Homo sapiens: one gene and its partners. The protein of the gene in region 5 purifies or fractionates together with the protein of the main gene of each other region. This does not show direct contact. Each region holds a gene or a part of one and is shown on either strand. Other genes may lie near its edges.

Evidence for each region.
Region 1: the proteins of CPNE5 (region 5) and SNTB2 purify together in Homo sapiens (affinity purification with mass spectrometry; 2 studies listed by BioGRID and IntAct, with this or other methods). This does not show direct contact.
Region 2: the proteins of CPNE5 (region 5) and RABGEF1 purify together in Homo sapiens (affinity purification with mass spectrometry; 2 studies listed by BioGRID and IntAct, with this or other methods). This does not show direct contact.
Region 3: the proteins of CPNE5 (region 5) and UTRN purify together in Homo sapiens (affinity purification with mass spectrometry; 2 studies listed by BioGRID and IntAct, with this or other methods). This does not show direct contact.
Region 4: the proteins of CPNE5 (region 5) and DHRS7 purify together in Homo sapiens (affinity purification with mass spectrometry; 2 studies listed by BioGRID and IntAct, with this or other methods). This does not show direct contact.
Region 6: the proteins of CPNE5 (region 5) and MBNL3 purify together in Homo sapiens (affinity purification with mass spectrometry; 2 studies listed by BioGRID and IntAct, with this or other methods). This does not show direct contact.
Region 7: the proteins of CPNE5 (region 5) and DTNB purify together in Homo sapiens (affinity purification with mass spectrometry; 2 studies listed by BioGRID and IntAct, with this or other methods). This does not show direct contact.

What each region holds. Positions count from the first base shown.
Region 1 is NC_000016.10:69,185,765-69,189,963, reverse strand, and holds the start of SNTB2 (beta-2-syntrophin), read right to left. Parts: upstream 2,801-4,199; 5' UTR 2,798-2,800; coding exon 2,218-2,797; intron 1-2,217. UniProt on the Homo sapiens protein: Adapter protein that binds to and probably organizes the subcellular localization of a variety of membrane proteins. May link various receptors to the actin cytoskeleton and the dystrophin glycoprotein complex.
Region 2 is NC_000007.14:66,775,233-66,778,732, reverse strand, and holds part of RABGEF1 (rab5 GDP/GTP exchange factor), read right to left. Parts: coding exon 3,340-3,500; intron 1-3,339. UniProt on the Homo sapiens protein: Rab effector protein acting as linker between gamma-adaptin, RAB4A or RAB5A. Involved in endocytic membrane fusion and membrane trafficking of recycling endosomes. Stimulates nucleotide exchange on RAB5A. Can act as a ubiquitin ligase.
Region 3 is NC_000006.12:144,487,835-144,491,334, forward strand, and holds part of UTRN (utrophin), read left to right. Parts: intron 1-838; coding exon 839-1,000; intron 1,001-2,236; coding exon 2,237-2,365; intron 2,366-3,094; coding exon 3,095-3,268; intron 3,269-3,500.
Region 4 is NC_000014.9:60,146,009-60,148,398, reverse strand, and holds part of DHRS7 (dehydrogenase/reductase SDR family member 7 isoform 1 precursor), read left to right. Parts: intron 1-177; exon of another isoform or gene 178-2,390. UniProt on the Homo sapiens protein: NADPH-dependent oxidoreductase which catalyzes the reduction of a variety of compounds bearing carbonyl groups including steroids, retinoids and xenobiotics.
Region 5 is NC_000006.12:36,742,860-36,745,444, forward strand, and holds part of CPNE5 (copine-5), read right to left. Parts: coding exon 2,529-2,585; intron 2,292-2,528; coding exon 2,189-2,291; intron 1,668-2,188; coding exon of another isoform or gene 1,518-1,667; exon of another isoform or gene 1,473-1,517; intron 1,467-1,472; coding exon 1,409-1,466; coding exon of another isoform or gene 1,263-1,408; intron 904-1,262; coding exon 830-903; coding exon of another isoform or gene 431-829; exon of another isoform or gene 392-430; intron 1-391. UniProt on the Homo sapiens protein: Probable calcium-dependent phospholipid-binding protein that may play a role in calcium-mediated intracellular processes. Plays a role in dendrite formation by melanocytes.
Region 6 is NC_000023.11:132,368,820-132,371,429, reverse strand, and holds the end of MBNL3 (muscleblind-like protein 3), read left to right. Parts: 3' UTR 1-2,110; downstream 2,111-2,610. UniProt on the Homo sapiens protein: Mediates pre-mRNA alternative splicing regulation. Acts either as activator or repressor of splicing on specific pre-mRNA targets. Inhibits cardiac troponin-T (TNNT2) pre-mRNA exon inclusion but induces insulin receptor (IR) pre-mRNA exon inclusion in muscle.
Region 7 is NC_000002.12:25,383,578-25,387,077, forward strand, and holds part of DTNB (dystrobrevin beta), read right to left. Parts: exon of another isoform or gene 2,785-3,500; intron 2,536-2,784; coding exon of another isoform or gene 2,486-2,535; exon of another isoform or gene 2,450-2,485; intron 1,634-2,449; exon of another isoform or gene 1,489-1,633; intron 313-1,488; coding exon 259-312; intron 1-258.

The DNA of each region.
Region 1 (4,199 bases), on a different chromosome or scaffold from region 5:
TTGTACAAAGTGGGAAAATAAAGTAGAACCTGCATGTTAGGTAAAAAGGCATTCAATAAACATGTTATTATGCGGCCATCTTTCTAAAAGCACACGTGGCCTATTTTAGCCCAATAAAGACTGGGAAGCATTTACTGCAAGGTTTTCATTTTACTGGTCTGAATACTAGGTTCAAACTATACCTATACAAAAAGTAGGTTGGTTGTTTGTTTTTGAGATGGAGTCTTGCTCTGTCATCCAGGCTGGGCATCCATGCTGGAGTGCAGTGGTGAGATCTTGGCTCACTGCAGCCTCCACCTCTGAGGTTCAAACGATTCCCCTGCCTCAGCCTCCCTAGGAGCTGGGATTACAGGCATCTGCCACCACGCCTGGCTAATTTTCGTATTTTTAGTAGAGACGAGGTTTCGTCATGTTCTCCTGACCTCAGGTGATCTGCCCACCTTGGCCTCCCAAAGTGCTGGGATTATAGGCATGAGCCACCACGCCTGGCCAAAAGGTTTTTTGTGTTTTTTTTCTAAATATGGTGTACAAGGTTCAACTGTCTGCCCATCACAACTGAGGACTACATAAATAGTACTAAATTCAATATTCTGGATGTAAGAATTTATAACCAAATGCTTAGCTAGACCAACTTCAAGGTACACGTTTAGAGTAACAGTTTTTTTTGGACACACACCCAAACCACAATCTATAATTTTACTCCTTCTATTAACACTAATTTCCGAGCAATGTCTAGCCCCACCTAGACATGCAATATAAATAAGGTTTATAAATAGGATATTATAAAGGTGGGACACTGGAACTTCACAACTGGTGTACATGAAATCATTTCTGGTAAATCAGTATTTTTCCAAATATTCACAAGCTGATTTATAAGAAAGTGAAAATCCATTGTGCCAAGTTGGACTTCTGGCCTCTCGGTTTGACGATTGGTCCTTCTTCACCAGCAGCCCCCAGCCCTTCCCTTCTGTCCTTCCTCTGCCAGGAATACCCTCCTGACTCATCCCTGCCTGCCTATGTCCATCACTTCTTGGAGACCTGGCTCAAGATTCAGCTTCGGGAAAAAGTCCTCCCTGGCTAATTCCATCTCCACTAACTATTTTCTAACTTTGCATTCCTTTGGCATTTAAGTATAGTTTCACGACGTAATCACCAACTTCATTCCTTTCCTCCCTATAAGTTGTTTTGCATTTTTCTATCATTTCTCCAACTAGAGACCAAGTAGGGACAGCATCTTCTTTTATATTCTTTTCAACACAGCTAGCCATAATCACCAGTGAAAGAAAGCTGACCGCTCAAAAATTTCTGAAGAAAGCAGCTGACTTTTCGTTTATAATTTACAATACTCTATCACCTCCAACATGCATGAGTCCTTAGAGGAGAGGAATTTTATTTTTGCCTTAGTTCAAATTCATCATGAAAGATCCAACTTACAGATCACATACATATAACTTAACGTAAAGAATAATCCTGGTTATTGAAACCTATCTTGTGATTTGCCATTTCAAGTTTCTTACAAAAACCCCAAGAGTCTTGAAGCAGCGCGCCTGTGAGTGGTAGGAAGCTGGCAGCAGACTTGCAAAAGGGGCAAAACTCTAGTTGGCAGTAAATGTTCAAACACGTGAGCCTCCACTGTTAAACAAGGTTCGTTAACCACACAGACTTGCTGTTTCAGCTTTCTGGCTTCAATGAAATGCTATGATCTCCTTTGGTTATTGTTGAGAGCCAATGATGGGTTAAATTCCCATAAATTAACCAGCGCTTTGGTGGTTTGCCCGAGCATACCGCTGGCATCGGTGAAGATGGACTTTTTTTTTTTTTTAATAGACCCGCCCGCCCCGAGGAGCCAGAGGTGAGTGAGTTAAGCGCCAACCCGGCACTTCTCAGCGGGCAAACGGAGACAGACCCACTCGAGCCGTTCGCTCTCCCTCAAGTTCTTAGTGTCAGCTTATCGGGCCGAGGTGGGGCTTCATAGGCAGCTGCTTTTTACTCAATCTCAGCCGAGTCTTCCCTAGGGGCTGCAAGCCACACTTCGGCGGCTGCCCAACTTTTCCTGCAAGAAGCATCCGTTTTTCCACACTGAAAGCTCCAGAAACCCGGGTTTGGAGAGAGACGGGGAGAGAACCGGCTCGCCCCGCCGGCGGGGCAGGAACAAAGTGAGCTCCCGCGAGCCCAGGCCGCCGCGGCCTGCCCACCCTCCCGCCCGGCCCCGCTCACCCTCCAGCAGCACCTCCTTGCCCGCGCGCTTCAGCGCCTGCACGGCCTGGTCGTGGGTGGCCTGGCGCAGGTCGGTGCCGTTCACCGACAGGATGGCGTCGCCCAGCCGCAGCGCCCGGCTCTGGTCGGCAGCCAGCCCGGGGAAGATCTTGGAGATGAGGATCGGCATCCGGTTCTCGCGGCCGCCCTTGATGCTGATGCCCAGGCCGCCCGCCTCTTGCTTCACCACCCGCACCCGGCGCACGGGCGGCGACGCGCCCGCCTCACCCGCGGGGCCCCGAGGCGGCGCCGGCGGGCTCGGGGGCCCCAGGCCGCGGCTTGGGCTCCCGGGCAGCGAGTCGCCCGCGCCGCCGCCGTTTGGGAGGCCGTTGAAGGCGGCGGCCGCGGGTCCCAGAGCGGGCTCCAGCTCGGCCGCGGCGGCGTCGCCCGTCAGGCTCAGGCTCTCCCCGCTCAGCTCGGCCACCACTCGGACCCAGCGCTCCCTCAGGAGCAGCTCCACCAGCCCCGCTTTGGTGGCCCGCGTCCACACCGCCATGGCCGGCCCCGCTCCAGCCGCCGCAGTCGCCGCAGCTACCCTCATTCCAGTCAGGCAGCCTCGGCGCTTCCCTCTTCCCGCCCGGAGGGGCGGGCCCGGCCCCTCCCCCGCACGATTCATTATTCATGAGGCCACGCCTGCCTCTGGAGGGGCGGGGCCGGCGCAGCCGCTTCCGGGAGGTGCAGAAGTTGTCCGATCACTCGCCTCTCGCCGGACGTGGGCAACCCGAATGCGGTGGGACTGCATTTCTCCTCATCCTTCCATTGGCTCCCCACGGACCCCCCAGAAACTCCTGACCTCTACCGTGCAATTCACGGGAGCTGCCCGGGCACGGAAAGCAAAATCAGCTTGGAGAAACACTTCTCAAGCCTGCAAGACCCGGTGGCACGTTCATTCTTGCATTGATTGGTTCGTACCCTGTGTACTGAGCGCTTAGCCCTGTACTCCGGCTCCTTTTGAGGCCCTGTACTTAAGCTCAATAGTACCAACAACAGCTGAGAGTTTGCGGTCTAGTGGGGAAGGAAAATGCAGAACCAACCAACTAGGTGTGATACTATGTGGTTAAGTGACATGCAGAAGACGTCCCCAGAACAGCATAAAAGGAACATTTGGTTAGGCCTGGGGTCAGCTTCACAGAGGTAACAACGGACGGTGAACAGCTCAAGCAAAGGTCCAACAGCATGATCCAAGCCTTTGTCAATGTTTTGTAATCTCGTTTACTTGCCTGTAATTCAAGAGGGAACCATGTCTTCTTAAACCCTGAAGCCACAATTGGCAGGCCTCAAGGATATTTGCAGAATGATGGTGTCTTAGGGTTCTTCAGAGAAACCAACCAATAGGATATATAGAGATATATAAATTTATTATTATTACAAGGGACTGGCCACGAGATTATGGATGCTGAGAAGTCCCACGATCTGCCATCTGCAAACTGCAGGCCCAGGAAAGTTGGTGGTGCACTTCCAATCCAAGCCCAAAGGCCTGAGACCCAGAATCAGTGGTATAAACCTGAGATTGAAAGTCTGGGCCGGGCGCGGTGGCTCAAGCCTTTAATCCCAGCACTTTGAGAGGCTGAGGTGGGCGGATCACCTGAGGTCACGAGTTTGAGACAAGCCTGACCAACATGGAGAAACCCCATCTCTACTAAAAATACAAAAAATTAGCCGGGCGTGGTGGCACATGCCTGTAATCCCAGCTACTTGGGAGGCTGAGGCAGGAGAATTGCTTGAACCTGGGAGGCAGAGATTGCGGTGAGCTGAGATGGCACCATTGCACTCCAGCCTGGGCAACAAGAGCAAAACTCTGCCTCAAAAAAAAAAAAAAAAAAAGAAAGAAAGAAAGAAAGAAAAAGAAAGTCTGGGCCGGGTGCAGTGGCTTACACCTGTAATCCCAGCACTTTGGGAGGCCAAGGCGGTGGATCACCTGGGGTCAAGAGTTATAGACCAGT
Region 2 (3,500 bases), on a different chromosome or scaffold from region 5:
TGAAGGGGCCCTTTTTTCCCTACTCTAGCCCCAGAATCAGTCACTTCTCCAAGAAGCCCTGATTCACTTTAATGAATAATAGGTTTACTTTCTAAGGTCTGGGTGGTATTGGTATTTTAACTCTAAAAATGAAAAGATATGCTTTAGAGAATCACCGTCTTCAGATCCGTTCATGAAAGAGGTACACAAGATTCTACTTGGAATGACAACATTATAGGAGTTCTGAAAGAAAAGGGCACTTTGGAATGTATAAGCAAGTATCTCAGCTTGGTCAACCACTATGACTTCCTCTATACAGCTCACTCACCCTGACTGTAGAGACTAAAACACTTTAACTGAGTCTTTACAGTCAAGACATTCCATTTACTTTCTCTGAAGGCGTATCCAACTCTAAAAGAATGTGAAGATATTCTTCAAATTCCTTAGAAGGTTATTTGTATTTTGTCTGCTACCAAGCTGCTACGTATGGCATAAAAACTTTCCTTTATGCTACTAACAGAAGCAAGTAAAACACCAACAGCAAGGGTATCATGGACTAAGGAAGATTCAAGAATACAGAATCCAAAAAGTCTGTTTCTAGTCTAGACCTAATACATTAAAACGGCACTTAGGCTAATCTTATCCAAACACAATGGCCAAACAAAAGTAATCAGTGTGAAATGCAAAATTTACCTGGCTAAGTTATATTAAGTGATCTGTGAAACAAAGATACAATGGAATCTTCTTTTCTAACATGAATTTTTAAAATACTTTAAGGTCTTTATCCCCAAAGCTTTCTACAGACAAAAAGCAACTAAAGAACAAACAATCTAAAGTACAAATCTATCATTCAAAAAGATGGGGGATGAGGGGAGACAAGAACAAAGGTAAAAATCATTCTGCATACATATTTTTAAAACAAAATTCACCTGGATTCTTTATTAATTAATTAATTTTTTTAATGTTGGTGTCTCACTCTGCTGCCTAGGCTGGAGTGCAGTGGCACAATCAGAGCTCACTGCAGCCACTAACTCCTGGGCTCATGTAATCCTCCTACCTTAGTCTTCCAAGTAGCTGGGATTATAGGTAGGTAGAAGCCACTGCACCCAGCTCCAGAAATGTTTCTTTTTAAAGTACAGACTCTGCATTGAATTGTAAATTTTCTTTCAATAGTATAATGCACACTGTACAGAGGCTTTTGGGACACAGGTTTTTAAAACCACCAAGGAGAGTTAGCAAATATAAATGACAATTATGTACTTAAGTAACAGAAACTTAATTTCATATATATATATTATTTATGATATATATTAAATAACCTGGGCTTCTGAAGTATACACATTGGATAAAGGAATATAATGGAAAAATATTGACCCAGGAATTAGGAGACATGAGTTCTCATGCACAAACTCATTGTGCAACCTTGGGTAAATTAGTTAACCTTTATGGACTTTCACACTGTCCTCTGCAAAATGAGGCTATTGGAGCTGATAATTTTATACTTGTTTTACTATTTCATCTGTTATCATAAATACTTATCATTTCACTACATATCATCAAGAAACAGACCTTAAGCTAAATAGGAATGAGTATTCTTCATAGCAAATGCCCTTGTGCTCCCTGCAAGATAATTCTATCAGAAGAATAACTTGCATTTTAAAACAGCTAACACTTACTGGAGATCTACTGTGTGTGTCAGGCACTGTGCTAAGCTCTTTACATGCATTAACTCACTGAATCCTCATCACGTGCCTCTGGTAGGTATTATTGTCCCTCAGTGTGGACAGGACTCGGAGAGGTTAGTCTGTCCAAGGTCACAAAGCTGGTAAATACAAAGCTAGGGCTCAAACCAGGAGTGACTCCAAAGTCACCTTACTACCTGGCTATTCCACCTCCTAATAAATAAATCATGAGCCCAATACATTCTTATTTAATCTCTGGCAGGTACTAATTTTTCCCCCCTTTTTCGTAGAGATAAAATTGCTACAACTGGCAGCCAACCAAGAAACAACTTCAAATTAATCATGTAATCAATCTTTTTTCTTTTCTTTCCTTTTTTTAGACAGGGTCTTGCTCTGTCACCCAGGCTGGAGTGCAATGGCACGATTTCGGCTCACTGCAACCTCCTCCTCCTAGATTCAAATGATTCTCCTGCCTCAGCCTTCTGGCCTCAGCTGGAACTACAGGCACATGCCACTGTGCCTGGATGATTTTTCTATTTTTTGTAGAGGCGGGGTTTCACCATGTTGCCCAGACTGGTCTCAAACTCCTGAGCTCAGGTAATCCATCTGTCTTGGCCTCCCAAAGCGCTGAGATTACAGGCTTGAGCTACCGCACCAGGTCTGGTATCCATGTCTTAAAGAGAGGTGTGTTTTTGGTTATGAGCAATATTTCCTTTTAATAAAACAAAAGGAAACAGCAAAAGTCACAAAACCTAGAAGACCAGCAAGTATCTTAAGAAGTAACACTGTCTTATTATTCATTCCCCGGCCTTCAGGGGAGACCTCATTACAATTACCCCAGGGTAGGAACTGGGGAGCAAGTGAGGGGGCTCCCAGAGAACAGGTCTTCTGACAGCATCAGTGTTGGTTCCCAGTCTCCCTCATTATTTCGCTTTGACTGCATAACTCTGAGTACCAACATAAATTTTCAAAGACAGACTGAGGCCTAACAACAAAGAGTCTTTCTTGCTTCATGTTGGGCCACTTCAACTAGCTAGTCTGCTCAATGGTAGAACAACTGTGACTTAAGTGACAATCCTCTTGCTGGTTATATGGCATTTTAAAAAGCAGGGTGAATATGATCACCTACATACAAATCCATGCACTGGAAAATAGCTACTATGGCTCACTTTCATCCCCCCAAGAGCCCAACTTGGGCCTTTTCCTATATGTTCTCAATACACTTCCTCAAGACACAAGCTGTCTCTCAAATAAGCTCTCAGGCAGAAAATCTCTCTCTCAGATGACTATCAAGCCTAGAAATCACCATTTCTGACAAGCTATGAACAGTGAGGGTATTATACCACAGAACAAACCAGGATCCACAAATAAAGGCACAAAAACCAAAACATCCAAAGAGATAGTCATTTGGATGGGGATGAATTTCATAAGCAAAAGTACCTATTTCAATTCTCTTGATTCCTCCTATAAACAAATTTCTCTAAAACACAATGTCTTTCAACCAAAGAGAGTATTGATTTCATATACTGTCTGACCCTCAAGCCCAATTTCAGTGTCAAATCTGAGCTGATGTTCTCAAAAAGTTGACAGAAATTACAAAGCTGAGCTTATGAGCATTGGGGATCTCCTCTGTGTCTCACTCAGGCAGAGAAGAAAAAAAAGAGTATCAGAACATTACCCTTCTTTGATCCGACCCTGGAAGATGCACTGAAGAATTTCTTCACTGTGGTAACCTTGCGGGTCTTCTCGTTGGTTTTCTTTTCTTCAAACTTGGAGAATGTGAGGGATTGGGCCCCTTGGCTGCTCTGACTGCTGGCAAAGGCCTCTTCTTCCTCCCGC
Region 3 (3,500 bases), about 110 Mb from region 5:
TTGAGGGTATTGAAATATTCAGAAAGGAAGAATAGATCTAACACTCTAAGACAGAACTGGATGATTAAAAAAATTATTTTTGAGATTACTTCTACTTACAAACATTTAATTTTCATTAAGGATCATATGATAGCTGTATATAAGAACAACAACTCATACTATCCTAGTAAATATTAGGGCCATGATATTTCACATAAGCTGCTGTGAAAGCCATAGTCTCTTAGTTCATATCCAGGTTGTAACATACATATTCGTATCACAAATTAGAGAAAGAACATTTCTTTTATAGGAAGGTTGGGTATGAATATTAGGTGCTTCCAAACACATATTAAATAATAACTGTTGATGTTCAGCCCATGAATAACATCAAGCTTAACCCAAAAGTGCTGTAAATAGTAGTTTGATATGTATGTACACCTATAGAATTTGTTTTAGGCTTTGGAAAAAAAGAGACTCTGATGTTTGTGTATTGATAGACATTTTTCTTATGTTTTATATTCTTAATTGGCAGACATTGCTGATTCCTAAAAATGCTTTAAAATTATAATAAATAACACATTTTTATCTTCTGTTTAATGCATCTTATGGGAAACCTTTACATTTTTGTATTTCAACATTATATATAGAAAGAAGTAATAATTAGTAATTCAGCTGCATGGTACATAAGATCCTAGTGGGACATTTTCACTGTTATCATTAGTAATTATTATTTATTTATAAAGAAAGCTAAAGTCTTGGATGAAAGCTTTTATGGTCTTTTCTTAGTGGCCAGAATATATATATTCTGCTATTTATATTTGTGTTGGGCAACTAATGATTCAATTTCTCCTTTGTGCAGGCAGAGAGCAAGCAGATTTCTTTGGAAAAGCAACTCCAGGTGCTGCGGGAAACTGACCAGATGCTTCAAGTCTTGCAAGAGAGCTTGGGGGAGCTGGACAAACAGCTCACCACATACCTGACTGACAGGATAGATGCTTTCCAAGTTCCACAGGAAGCTCAGGTATTGCCGTGCATTTGAGGGCTTTTGAGCTGTAAAGAGAGCTTTTGTAATTGCCTCCTCAACTATAAGAGAACCCCTCCTGCTCTCCAAAACCGAGAGTCAATGGGAAAGATTGACCTTACTTACAGGGCAGCATTTGGGTTTTGGAGTTCTCTTGCTTTCTATGTGAGACTCTGGCAAAAGTCTTATATAGTTTATTTTATTTTATTTTATTTTATTTTATTTATTTATTTGAGACAGAATCCCACTATGTCACCCAGGCTGGAGTGCAGTGGCACGATCTTGGCTCACTGCAACCTCCGCCTCCTGGGTTCAAGTGACTCTCCTGCCTCAGCCTCCCGAATAACTGGGACTACAAGCACGCGCCACCACGCCCGGCTAATTTTTTGTAGTTTTAGTAGAGACGGGGTTTCGCCATGTTGGCCAGGCTGGTCTTGAACTCCTGACTTCAAGTGATCTGCCTGCCTCGGCCTCCCAATAATTTTTGTATTTTTAGTAGAGACGGGGTTTTGCCATATTGTCCAGGCTAGTCTCAAACTCCTGACTTCAGGTGATCCACCTTCCTCGGCCTCCCAAAATGCTGGGATTACAGGCGTGAGCCACTGTGCCTGGCTGAAAAGTCCTGTATATTTTAAATTGTAGTTTTCTTAGCTGTGAAGTTGGGACAATTCCTTCCTTATAAATAAGTTGTGAACATTAGAAACGACAAATGCAAAGCCCTTAGCAGGTGCGTCATGTACAATAGTCATACCATGCAGTGGGCCATATTATTATTATTATACAAAAACGTATTATTATTATTTTTTAGACGGATTCTCACTCTGTTGCCCAGGCTAGAGTGCAGTGGCGCGATCTCGGCTCACTGCAAACTCTGCCCCACAGGTTCAAGCAATTCTCCTGCCTCAGCCTCCCGAGTAGCTGGGATTATAGGCGCCCGCCACCGTGCCCAGCTAATTTTTGTATTTTTAGTAGAGATGGGGTTTCACCATCTTGGCCAGGCTGGTCTTGAACTCCTGATGTCGTGATCCACCCGCCTCGGCCTCCCAAAGTGTTGGGATTACAGGCATAAGCCACCGCACCTGGCCTACAAAAACTTATTAAAGCTTCTGTGGAGGTCAACATTATGTAAAATACGATATCATGTATTACACAACGATATAGAACTTTTGTATTGTCTCTTTTTATACTTAAGTAAAAAAAAAAGGACATCCTCTCCCCTTTCCAATCTCTTTTTAGAAAATCCAAGCAGAGATCTCAGCCCATGAGCTAACCCTAGAGGAGTTGAGAAGAAATATGCGTTCTCAGCCCCTGACCTCCCCAGAGAGTAGGACTGCCAGAGGAGGAAGTCAGATGGATGTGCTACAGGTAAAGAAGGCCAGGAGCTTCCTTTTACTTTTCAACTTGTTGGGAATTTTCTTCAAAAAAGAGAAAGAATTGATTACTTGGGCACCGTTTGTATTCTTTGTGATGTAAACCATGGGATGGGAGTGATGATGTGTTGAAGGTTGCATCCTAGGGCAGCAGAAACAAATTGTTGCATGTGTGGAAAAATATGAAATCTGATTTTGATAGCTGAGATGAGAAACAAGAGAGTGAGCCAGATTTAGAAGTTAGCTTTATATACACTTTTTCTTTAATGCAGAGCCTCTGTCAGTATCGTGTGGCTGATGCTGTGGGCAGGCCGAGCATGAATTGGATGCAGCATCATTTAGTTCTTTCATGGTTGATATGACATTGACTTTCACTCTGAACTTGTGATGAAGGGCATTTTGAGTTCTAGGTTCCTGAACTATCTTTTTGAACATGAAGTTTTAATTCCAGTGAGGTCAGCTTTATCTAAATTTCTTATCCAAATCTATTACTTCTGAGATTGAGACACTGAGTGTTGTAATTTTTGACACTGGGCTATGCAGTTCACTTAGGTGATCGGGTACCCTCACTGAGATTCATTAGGAGTTTTTTATTTTGGGTCATATTTCTGAATTTTTTTCTTTTGGTACTTTATGGTACAAATTTTTAGTAGTATCTGTTATGCTCATGATGAGAGAGATAATCATCCTGATGGGAATTGCATATTTTCATTTCTGCAAACAGAGGAAACTCCGAGAGGTGTCCACAAAGTTCCAGCTTTTCCAGAAGCCAGCTAACTTCGAGCAGCGCATGCTGGACTGCAAGCGTGTGCTGGATGGCGTGAAAGCAGAACTTCACGTTCTGGATGTGAAGGACGTAGACCCTGACGTCATACAGACGCACCTGGACAAGTGTATGGTGAGGCTTTTGGGTGATTGGCACATCCAGTGGCTTTTTCAGCAGCTGTTATGGCTTGGTCTAGCAAGTACATGCCTAGTGTGTCCAGTGATCACTAGTCTACAGTGTGCTAAACATAAGGATTGATGATGGAAAACGTGTTAAAAAATAAGAAGTGTGGTCTTTCCCTCCAAAGAAATTAGAAGAGATAAGAGAGATAGCTAAGGAAACTAGAATAGACATGTATATAACA
Region 4 (2,390 bases), on a different chromosome or scaffold from region 5:
TTATAGATGATTATGCAGCAAAAGATTATTGCTGAGGATGGTTTTTACTGTTAGCCTTTGATATACTTTGTTACCACCTTCTTTTAGAAATTAATCAATGGGGATTGACAGATAAAAAAAGAATTATAAAACAAGATCATACTATATATACCTGCAAAAATTTAAGCAATCCACTAATTGTTAGACATTTAATTTATTCCAACTCTTTGCAGGACAGTGAAAATGAATTAGGGGGTAAAAAGTTACAAACACAACAAAATGCTTAAGAGACATAAAAGGTTATCAGACTGGGTCATGACACACTAAAATGTCCAGAGTGTGAAAAATCAAAAAGGAGCTTTTCGTTTTCTACCAAGTAGTAATGTGGAACAGTTTGCTTTGGGCCAGATCCCTTATGAGTGTTTTGGTATTGTTGGGACTTGGTAGTGTGGGTAGAAGCTCTAAAGGTAGAGTTTCATCAAAGAGTATACCTGAGTTTTAAATATGGAGGACAGCTGATGCAGTAGCTTTGTGCCCAGTGATGGAAAGAGTTGAGAGGGACAGGCCACCTTACTACAGAGGAAGCACAGCCTCCTGGCAGAGCATGCAGCCTGGTGCTAGGCTACCTGGGTTCAAATCCCAGCTCTGCCCCATGCCCTTAAAGCAAGTTACTTCTCTATCACTCAGTCTCCCCATCTATTAATATAAGATGGAGATTAATGATGATAATAGTGCCCAGTCACAGGATTGTTATGGGAATTACATGAATTTAATATATGAAAAGCACTTAAAACACAACTTGGAGTGTTCTAAGTGTTAGCTATTGTGCTTTTTCCCCCTTCTCAGCTTGAGTTAGATATAGCAGGATATTCAGCTTCCTTAATGATCAAAGATTTTCTTTATAATTGACACATAAAAATTATATATATTTAAGGTATACATTGTGATGATCTAATATACACTGTAAAATGATTACCACAATCAAGCTAATTAATACATGTCACCCAGTTACCTTTTTTTGTGTGTGGTGAGAACACTTAAAATCTTCTTAGCAAATTTCAAATATGCTATACAGTATTATTAACTGTAGTCACCATGCGGTATATTAGATCCTTAGAATCTGTAAATTATAATAACATAAGTTATTTATCTTATAACTGAAAATATCTACCATTTTTTTTCTTTGAGACAGGGTCTCGCCCTGTCACCCAGGCTGGAGTCTGCAGTGGCGTGATCATGGCTCACTCCCATCTCTACCTCCCAGGCTCAAGCAATCCTCCCACCCCAGCCTCCTGAGTAGCTGAGACTATAGGCGCACACCACCATGCCTGGCTAGGTTTTGTAGTTTTTGTAGAGACGGGTTTTTGCCACGTTGCCCAGGCTAGTCTCAAACTCCTGGGCTCAGGCGATCCACCTACCTTGGCCTCCCAAAGTGTTGGGATCATAGGTGTGAGCCACTGTGCCTGGCCAAAATGTGTACCTTTTGACCAAGATCTCCCCATTTCCTCCATCTTCTGGCTCCTGGCAACCATCATTCTACTCTGCTTTTGAGTATGACTTTTTAGATTCCACAGAAGTGAAATCACATAGTACTTGTTTTTCTGTATCTTGCTTATATCACTTAGCATTAACGTCCATTCATTATCCATGTTTTCACAAATGCCAGGAGTTCCATTGTTTTATGGCTGAAAAATATTCCATTGTGGAATAATATTCCATATATATATATACACACACAGACACACACACACATTTTCTTTATCCATTCATTCACTAATGGACACTTAGGTTGTTTCCATATCTTGGCTATTATGAATAATGCTAAAATGAACATGGGAGTGTAGGTATCACTTCAAGGTACTGATTTCACTTCCTTTAGATTTATACCCTTAAGTGGAATTGCTGGATCAGATGGTAATTCTATTTTTAATTTTTTGAGGAATTTCCGTATTTTCCATAATGTCTGTACTGGTTCACATTCTCAATTTAAATAATAGGGCAGAGAAAGAATATATTATAGAAGTGATTTTTTTTTCAAAGGGGAAAGAGGGACCAGGGACTAGAGAATTTCAGTCCCACTGTAGTAGTACTTCCAGAAATGTCCATATGAAGGATATTTTGTTTTGTTTAGAGAATATCTAACTGTAAAATATAAACATCATTTAGCAAATCTCGCATTTTTTTTACATCTAGGTTTTTCTAAAAAAATGACAGCCTTTTTCTTCCTACCACCATCTTTGAAATATTGCTTATTATATAGTCTTACTACTTTGTCACTCTTTATTATAAGCTGGGCATTCTGTCATTTCTCAAAGCAATTTTTAGGACATAATACCTCATTCTTTATAGTCTGTACTCTTCCTCTCTCCCACTATTTTATATTTTATATATATGTATATATATAAATTTTC
Region 5 (2,585 bases):
CAGCAGAGCCCTCTCTCTCTGGCCTCTCTTCGTTCCTTTTCTCTCTGGGGCTAATCTGGCCAATGCCTAATGCCAGGCCCATCTGGCTTCTTCCCGGGGGTGCCCTCCATCCTGAGCGCCTCTTCTGGCTCACTCCTGCCTCCAGGCCTTAGCATGGGCCGGTCCCACCTCCCAGGTTGTCTTGCTCTGGTTTCCAGCCCCCTATGTTTGGTCTCCACACCTGGGATACTGGGCCCCAATTTTTAAACCAAGGGGGTATGCAGGATGTCAGCTTTGTCTTCTGCATCTCCTAAGCACTAGGGCCTCCTCTGCAGGGGATGAGTGGGGGAAGTGCTTGCGGAGGGTGCATTCTTCCACGTGAGACTGCATGGGAATTCCCTGAGGACAAAGGTCTTTCTGCTCATTATATTTGCACCGTTCATGGAGATGCTTACATTGATTCAGTTAACCGAGCAATGCCTATTCTTGGAGAAGGCTGCAGCAACACTAAAGACACTGCCTCAGCCTTCAAGGGGCAGAAAAAAACCAGAACGAGGCTGACCACAGAGGCCTGGAGGCTGAGGAAGGGCTGGCAGAGGGTTCTGGCCTCTGGCTGGGCACCCGCAATGTTAGGAGTGTGTCCCAGATGTGACAGAGGGGGGCCCAGCCCAGACCACAGCATGGCCGAGGACTGACTCCTACTCCCTTCGGTGGTGGCTGGGCCACTTTGGGGCTCCCAGTGCCTCCCTTCTGGGCCCTTCACCAGGGAAGCCCCCAAAGGGGGTGTGAGGTCCGCCTGGCTAGAGGGGCTCTTGAATTTCCCATGGGGCAGGCAAGGCCTGGGCTTCACCTGGACGATGTCGCGTTCAGCCAGCTTCCCCCGGGAGGAGATCCGCACGTCGTCGCCATCCAGCTCCACCATGGCTGTGAGGGGAGGAGTGTCATGGGGCGGGGTGAGATTAACGGTGGACCCCTGGCCCTAGCAGGAGAGTGGACTTGTCCTTTCATCCCAGGCCAATCCAGGGCCGAGACCACTGGCCCATGCCCCGTGTTAGAGATGAGGAAACTGAGGCCAGGGGCCAGGAGGAGCCCGATCAGGTGAGCCTCTGACTTTGAGCCCAGTGCTTTGGTTCACCACCCTCCCCAGACTCCCAGGGCTGGAGGAGAAAGAAGTGACTTGGGGCCTCCTCCCCACAGCCTTGGGATGTGGGTGTGGGTGCACACCCAGACCTGACACACCCTTCCCTGAGCAAACAAATGCGTCCCACACCCTGCACACTCACCCAGACACACACGCCCAGGCGGGAGCTCTCACTCTTTTGGGAGGGGTCATTCCCAGGGGACCACAGCCTCTGGGGAAACATCTGGGGTGGGGGCAGGGTTGCGTGGCTAGGGAAGGAAAGGAGGGGAAGGCAGCAGCTGGACTCACCGTCGAACTCTGCCTGGCCCACGCCGACGATAATGATGGACATGGGGAGCTTGGCAGCCTGGGAGACAGCATGGGGGGCAGGGAAAGGTTGGACCCAATTGGGACCCAGTTAAAAGGAAGGAGAAATCAGGGGTAGGACAGGAAGGGGTGGGCAGGAAAGAAATGGGAGAGTGAACATGGAGAGACAGAGAAACACAGAAAAGGGGGTAGGGAGAGGGAGGGCACTCAGAGATAAAGAGCAAAGGAAACCAGGCTGCGCCTGGAGGAGAGAGGGAGGGTGGCAGGGGGAATGGGTCATAGGTCTGCTTTGGTGAGTCACCCCCATCCCCTCTTACAGGGAGACCACCGGCTTGGGGAGCCATGTTCCTGAGCTTCCCCAACTCTGAGCCTCCCCTCCCACTCCTTTGACCTGGCCAGGCTGGCCTGGGAAAGGGGGAAGCGGTCCTAGAGATGGGTTAATGAGGGAGTCATTGGGGTCTGGAGGGAGTAGACCAGAGCGTGACTAAGAGGTGGGAACAGAGCTCACCAGCCAGATCTCTCATGATCTGGGCACCCCTTCCACCCGCTAGAATCCACTATCCAGCACCGGACTCTGCAGCCAGAGGCCAGAAGGTGGATGAGGGCAGTGGGGCCCAGTGAGGCAGGGAAATGAGAAGCCACGCCCAAGTCATCTCCAAGCATTTCCCTAAGGTCAAGGAGGTAGGCACATCCCCAGGGTTCCCCTAACGGGGAGGAAGACACTCCTCAAACCGCCTCCCCCACCGCACACTCCTTGCTTACGTTGACAATGGCCTCCTTGGTCTGCGCCATGTCCGAGATGACCCCATCAGTAATGATGAGCAGCACCGAGTACTGGGAGCCATCCTGCACGGCCGCTGCATTCCTGGGTGGGGCAGGTGTGGGCTCAGGTCTGTCTGCGGGACCTCTGGGCATGTTCCCCCCTAAACAAGGACCCTGAACACTTTGGAGGGTGACAGCTCTTGGGGGAATCTCTTCAGGGTCAGGGCTCCCTGAAAGGCAAGTGCGTGGGAAGAGAAACCCCCTCCCACCACCCAGAGGCAGAGCTGGTGTGGAAACAGAGGCCTTGTGAGTGCCTGGAGGCGGTGGCAGCGGCACTCACCTGGCCACGTGGGTGACCACGGGGGCAAAGTTGGTGGGGCCGTACAGCTGCACAGTG
Region 6 (2,610 bases), on a different chromosome or scaffold from region 5:
TAAGAAAGTAAATGTAATTTAGTAATACTTTATTCTGCCTTATTTCAAAATGCTTCAAAAATGCGAATCTGGAACTTCTCTGCATTGACCACTGTTCTGGAGTTGGGCTGATAGAAAACTGCGGTGAAGAGAGTTTAGATCAGAGGCTATGGCAGAGCAAAGTATTACTGATGTGTCTCTTAACAGTGAAGAGGGTCGGGGAGGAGGTTGGGTCCTTGTCAAGTGTCAGCTGCCCTATACATAGTTCTCTTGCCCCTTGTGCCCTGTTTTACTATTTCTAAGGTGGTTCCCATGATGGCATTTCTTGATAAGCCCACTTTGAGCCGTTTAATGTTTTGTAGGTGTTTCTGTGAGTCTGATAATACCAGCACTAAAAACAGTTCAGTATATAGACATTTACAAGAGGTCTTAGGCCTCTTCAGAATTCAGTTAATGTCTTTCTCTTTGAGGCTGCTGAATGTTAGGTAAGAATTCAGGGCAAGCATTCCCGACCATCATCAAATTGGAGACTTGGAGTTTCTATTGGCTGGAAGAAAGTTGACCCACAGGCAAAACCAGATGTAAACCAAGTTTGTCTTGGGTACTTTTCAAATTCTTTTCACAGCATCCTTTTCTCATCCCTCATGGTGGCCTCTGGCCCTGGAAAATCCTCATGATAGCAACTTATCAGGCCTGTTTCCTCTGATAGATCTGGACTTTTCCCCTTAAGTGCTTTCCTGTTGGGCTTCTCAGACTATGGAGAACTGCTCATAGTTGAGATCTAAGAGACAAATTACCCTATGGTGTTCAAGAATGGCCGTATTTAGTATACTGCCTGTCCTGGAAGTGTTCACATTTAAAAAGGCATGACTTTCCAATGGGCAAATATCAGACACCTACATGCATAGATAAGGGAAATATGTTTTACTTAAGCAAACTTCTAGGCATTGAATCTCAGTGTTTAGGTGCAGAGATGGAATTCCTATAAGCAATGCAGTCATTCACCACATCAGGAAGGCCAAAAAATGAACACTCTCGTAATTTTGTTATTATCTGGAAAGTTCTGATATGATAATGAACCTAAAATACTGAATAGATAGTGAACATCCTAAAATTCCACTGACCAGAATCCATTCCCATGGTCATCATCTGTAGAGGGCATGATACAATGACAGGCCTGAGGTATGATTATAATTCTGGAGTAATTTAAAGCCTATATTTGTTAAACTTTAACAGATGGACACACATTCTCTGATTTTCTACTTGGCTCTTTCCTGTACTAGAAATGCGCATTTAACTAAACCTTCCCAGCTTTTCTGTTCAGTGCCTGACTTACACTACTCCCTTAGGCAGGAGGACAGTGGGTGTCTGGGGAATAAAAGCCAAGAGCTCCAAACAGAGGATTTTGGATACAAAGGGCAGCCACCAGGAAATAGCTTTGTGAGAGGGACAGACTATCTGATTCCCATTTGTACAAACATGTCCAAAGCAAAAGCACAGCATTCTAAAGTGGATGCAGAAATTAGTATACAATGGCAGTTCTGGCCAGTGCAGCCCAGCATTTTTCTGTTGTGCATGGAAAGAACACAGTGAAAAGGCAGGCAGGGCATCCGGTGCAAAGTGCAACAGACATAGACACACAAATCCAGTTTTCCTGATGAGAGAGGGAGCTATCTCTTCATAAGTGATGCAATGCAATGCAGGCATGTACAAGTACAAGGAAAGATTTATTTTTAAAAAATCATAGTGTAACTGGATGAATACCAGCAACAGCACCTGCTAAAGCAAACAGCCTGTTCATTAAAAACTGGACTTGAGGGAATGGAGAAAGAATCTGAGGAGCCTGCAGTCAGCATGCTTGCAGAGACCTTATGGCTACAGAAGACGATGATTAACCCATAGAGGTTCAATGTAGTTTTCAAGAAGAGGGTGGGAAAGCATAAGATGGGGACTAAGACTTTGCCTTTAACCTTCATGACATGAAGAATTGAATGACTCTTTGTTGGAAAAAATGGCAGTTATGAGATAATTGGATCCATGTTAATTATATATATTTCTGTATATATAGTAAGTGGTTATTGATGTGCCTTTGTTAACCATTTCACTATTTAATAAATGTGTGTGTAGTTTATTCAAAGTGTTTCAGTCCTTCTCAATTTCTATGAAAAAAGTCCCAAGTTAAATCCACTTACGGGTAGTTATACTAGGAAAACTTGCACCCATAAGAATCCCTGCAAACAGTGGTCATAATTTGGGGCTCACAGAAAGGGCTGCCAATGAAAGTCAAGCGGTATTTGTTCTAACAATCACACCCCATTTTCACAATTCATATACAAAACCTCAGTGATAAGCAAGTGTTTACCATAAACTGAACTACAAGCCAGCGGTAGAGAACACTCTAATAAGCAACTCCTTTCTTCTGATGGACACCATCAGAAATACTAAAGAAGCCTGGAATCTCAGTGTCATTGGGATGAAATTCTGGATCCAGAGGAACACCCAAACCACTCAGGAACAATATCCAAGGAGTGTCAGGCATCCCAACATGTTGTCCTCTACTCTCCACATTCTGGAGAAATGTTCCTATGGGGGAAAAAAATACAGCTCTAGATATTGTTAGGGTGGCTTAGG
Region 7 (3,500 bases), on a different chromosome or scaffold from region 5:
TCTACTTGTATCTACTTCCTGTATCCCAACTACCTATCCCAGGATCAGGAAATGAGGAAGCTCTTGGTGATCGACTGACCTTGTCACCTGGAAGGTAAAACCTGACTGTCAGATGGGAAAAGTAGGTACAGGGACCTCGGGTCCGAAAGCTCTGGGAAAGGTGGTGGCAGGGAGGAATGCAGAAACAAAGTGGGGGGCGGCTGATCCATGAGCTCGGGCTCCCCATTTAAACGAGCAGTCCTGCTGAGCTGCCTTTACCTCTGTCTTTCCCATTCTGCATCTTCTCTTCTTCTTCCTCTGCACCTTCCTCTGCTGTGAAAACAAGTCCAAGGAGGCCAGTGACCCTTCGGCACAGGACAAGTACAGAAGGAGGGTGAACAAAGCAACTGCTGAGGCTTGGGAGGAAACTCTAGCTAACAGCTCCTGGCTGCAGGCCTCTGAGGGTGCTTCAGCTCACCAGTCTGCACTTGTGCGGCCCACGCCCCAGCACTGCTGAATAGGAGCCCGTAAGACCACAGCCCAAAGGGAGCAGTGCGGTCACATCGCTCACTTTCCTGACCAGGGCTGGGGGCGTGCAGTGTGGGGTTGCGTGCCTCTGTTCTATGCCTGTCTGCCCTCAGGTGGTGATGACCAGGGAGACATCTAATGTCTTGCATTCAGGTTTAAGAAAGTGACCATACAATATATGGTGGGGGAATACCTAGATTAACACGGGGTTCTGTTAAAAAAAAAAAATTCCGTATGTTTTAGCTGATGATAAACTTAAAATGACCGCACAGTGCAAAGTGGCTATGTGGGAAGTGCTAATGCCGTCTAAGGTGCTTTTCCAGGGGACACTCAAGAGGGTCACAGATGCCTTGTGCTCTGCAGGGACAAGATCCCCTGTGATGGAGAGCAGGGTGCTGGGCCCTGGGCATGTACTTTGAATAGGAGCCTTGGAAAATGGCCACATCCTGGTATGGTCAAGCAGGCTGGTAAGAGAAAACCATGTCACGTTTGGAAAGGTTGAAGGAATTGGGTGTAGCAGTCTACAGAGGAGAAAACTAGGAAGGGTTGTCATTTGCCATCCAACCCGTGAAAGGCGAGCCTGCAGAGGAGGGACTGAGCTTATCCTGGGTAGCTTGAGAGGACAGGGATAAATCAGTTACAGAAAGTGAGATTTTGGCTCCCCACTGAGGAAGAAGTTTCCAGTGATTAGAGTTGATCATGAATGAGCTCGCTGGAAATATTCAGAGGACTGTTTTATTGGGTGGCGAGTTGGATTAAATGACTTCTAACATCCTTTACAATTTTTTTCTTTTCTTTTCTTTTTTTTTTTTTGAGATGGAGTTTTGCTCATTGCCCAGGCTGGACTACAGCGGCGCGATCTTGGCTCACTGCAATCTCTGCATCCCAGGTTCAAGCGATTCTCCTGCCTCAGCCTCCCGAGTAGCTGGGATTACAGACATGCACCACCATGCCAGGCTAATTTTGTATTTTTAGTAGAGACGGGGTTTCATCATGTTGGTCAGGCTGGTCTTAAACTCCTGACCTTAGGTGATCCACCTGCCTCAGCCTCCCAAAGTGCTGGGATTACAGGTGTGAGCCACTGTGCCTGTGGCCTCGATCCTTTCCAATTCTAGGATTCGATTATCTGTGAAAAAACTTTATAAAGATGAGGACTACAAGCTATGTATATACAGTATGTATACACTGTATAGAATATATGTAAAGATAATCTGAGTATGTCCTCTCATTGGAACAAAAACCTGTCAAGTCACTGTCAAGGAGACAGTAAAAACATGTTGGTGATGGGTGAAGCTATTCCATTCACTGAGAAATTGGCACCCTCACATGTAAAGGGAGTTTATGTCTGCATGTTAGAGGGATACCGTGCCATGTGTGGCTTTGGTCCACGTCTACCTACAGGCTTCAGTGACTGAGAGGACAGCATCAGGGAAAGGGGCCTCTGGGACTCTGGGTTTGCTATCTTGTCCTGGAGGGGAGTAAGATCTCTGGCTTGATGCTCTGAAGACCCAGGTTCTAGGACCAGCTTTCCCCCTTCAAGCTGCACGACCTTAGGCAGACCACTTTTCTGATAAGCACAGGCTACATCTCTAAAGTAAGGGACTGGACAATGTGCTCTCTAAGGCACCTTCCAAATTACACTACATAATTTTGTTGAAACCATCCTTTCTTACTATGAGACACTGCTGAGGATTCCTATAAGCTTTACATTTTTGTGAAGCTATTTGGTCTCTATGTGCTTTCCACTTAATGGTATTTAATGACCTCTCACCCTAGCACGATGAACGCAGAAGCCACTTATTTTGCATAAACTCTAATAAGTGGCCATGAAGTACAAGTGTAGTTAATTCCCATGGCCCGAAATTCCCTGAGAAATTTCCTCTAAAAGTGGGATTTCTGACATCTGTGGGGAGCTGCATTAGGGAAAGCGCCTTCTAATCACCTGTGAGGTCATCCTGAAGGCTGTCGCCTCTTCTGTTTATGTGTACAGAGCGGGGCCGTGCTTCTGATGGGGGTTGAGAAACAGTGCTAGAATGGAGAGGGTGGCACCATCAAACAAGAGAGGCAGCGTCTGACCTTAACTGACTGGAAAGACGAAGCTGGGCTATACACTCACTTTGGTCTGTATGAAAACAGGCAGACTTGAGAGCAGAGCTGGGGGCTCTGTCCAGTCCCATGACAACCCTAAACATGTGAGCTTTCTCCTACGAAGGGCTGAAAAATACCCAAGGCTTGCCTTCCCTAAGAGTGTTTGAATAAGTGTATGTGTTTGAATCGTCCGTGGAAAAACTGCTTTATCTTTTTATTTAATAATCCTGTTAAGCTACTTCAAGGTATTTAAAAGCACTACATTAGGTGGAAAGAAACAAAAGAGAGCCATCAGTGTGAGTGACCTACAGCGCTTAGGGAGGGAAACCATTAGTTTAACACAAAACATGGAGACCCCACCGCTGTGAAATCGTTAGTGACTCTCTGGCCCCTACGTAACTGGTAGAGTCATGGGGATTCCTGGAGATAGGAGGATACGTGAATGGCCTTTTATTTTCTCTCTCTTTCCTGGGTTTTATGTAAGGTGAAATGCCACGAGGTAAAGGTCTTTGGGAAGTCACTGAATTGGTGAGGTGATGGAGAGACTGAGAAAGAAGTCACAGATGAGCTGAACACAAGGAGCAGAAGAGGCGACAGACTCAGGTCATGAACTTCAGGTGAAATCAGAGCCTGGTCACGGACAAAAGGAGGGAATAGGTTTCAAAAACAAATCAAACAGGAGAGAGCAGAAAGGCAGCAGGGGAAGGTCCAGAGCTTTCCTGGCTGATTCCGCTCCAGACCTCCAGGGAAGTTTCAGAATGAGGTGGTCGGTCAGGCCTAGGGAGAGAGCGGCTGTGGACAAAGTACAGATGGAAGACGAGGTAAGTGAGGAAGGGGCCTGCCTGCACTGAAAGGTCTGAATTTCTCTACATTCAGCTTGCTCCACAAGATGCACTCCTGAGATA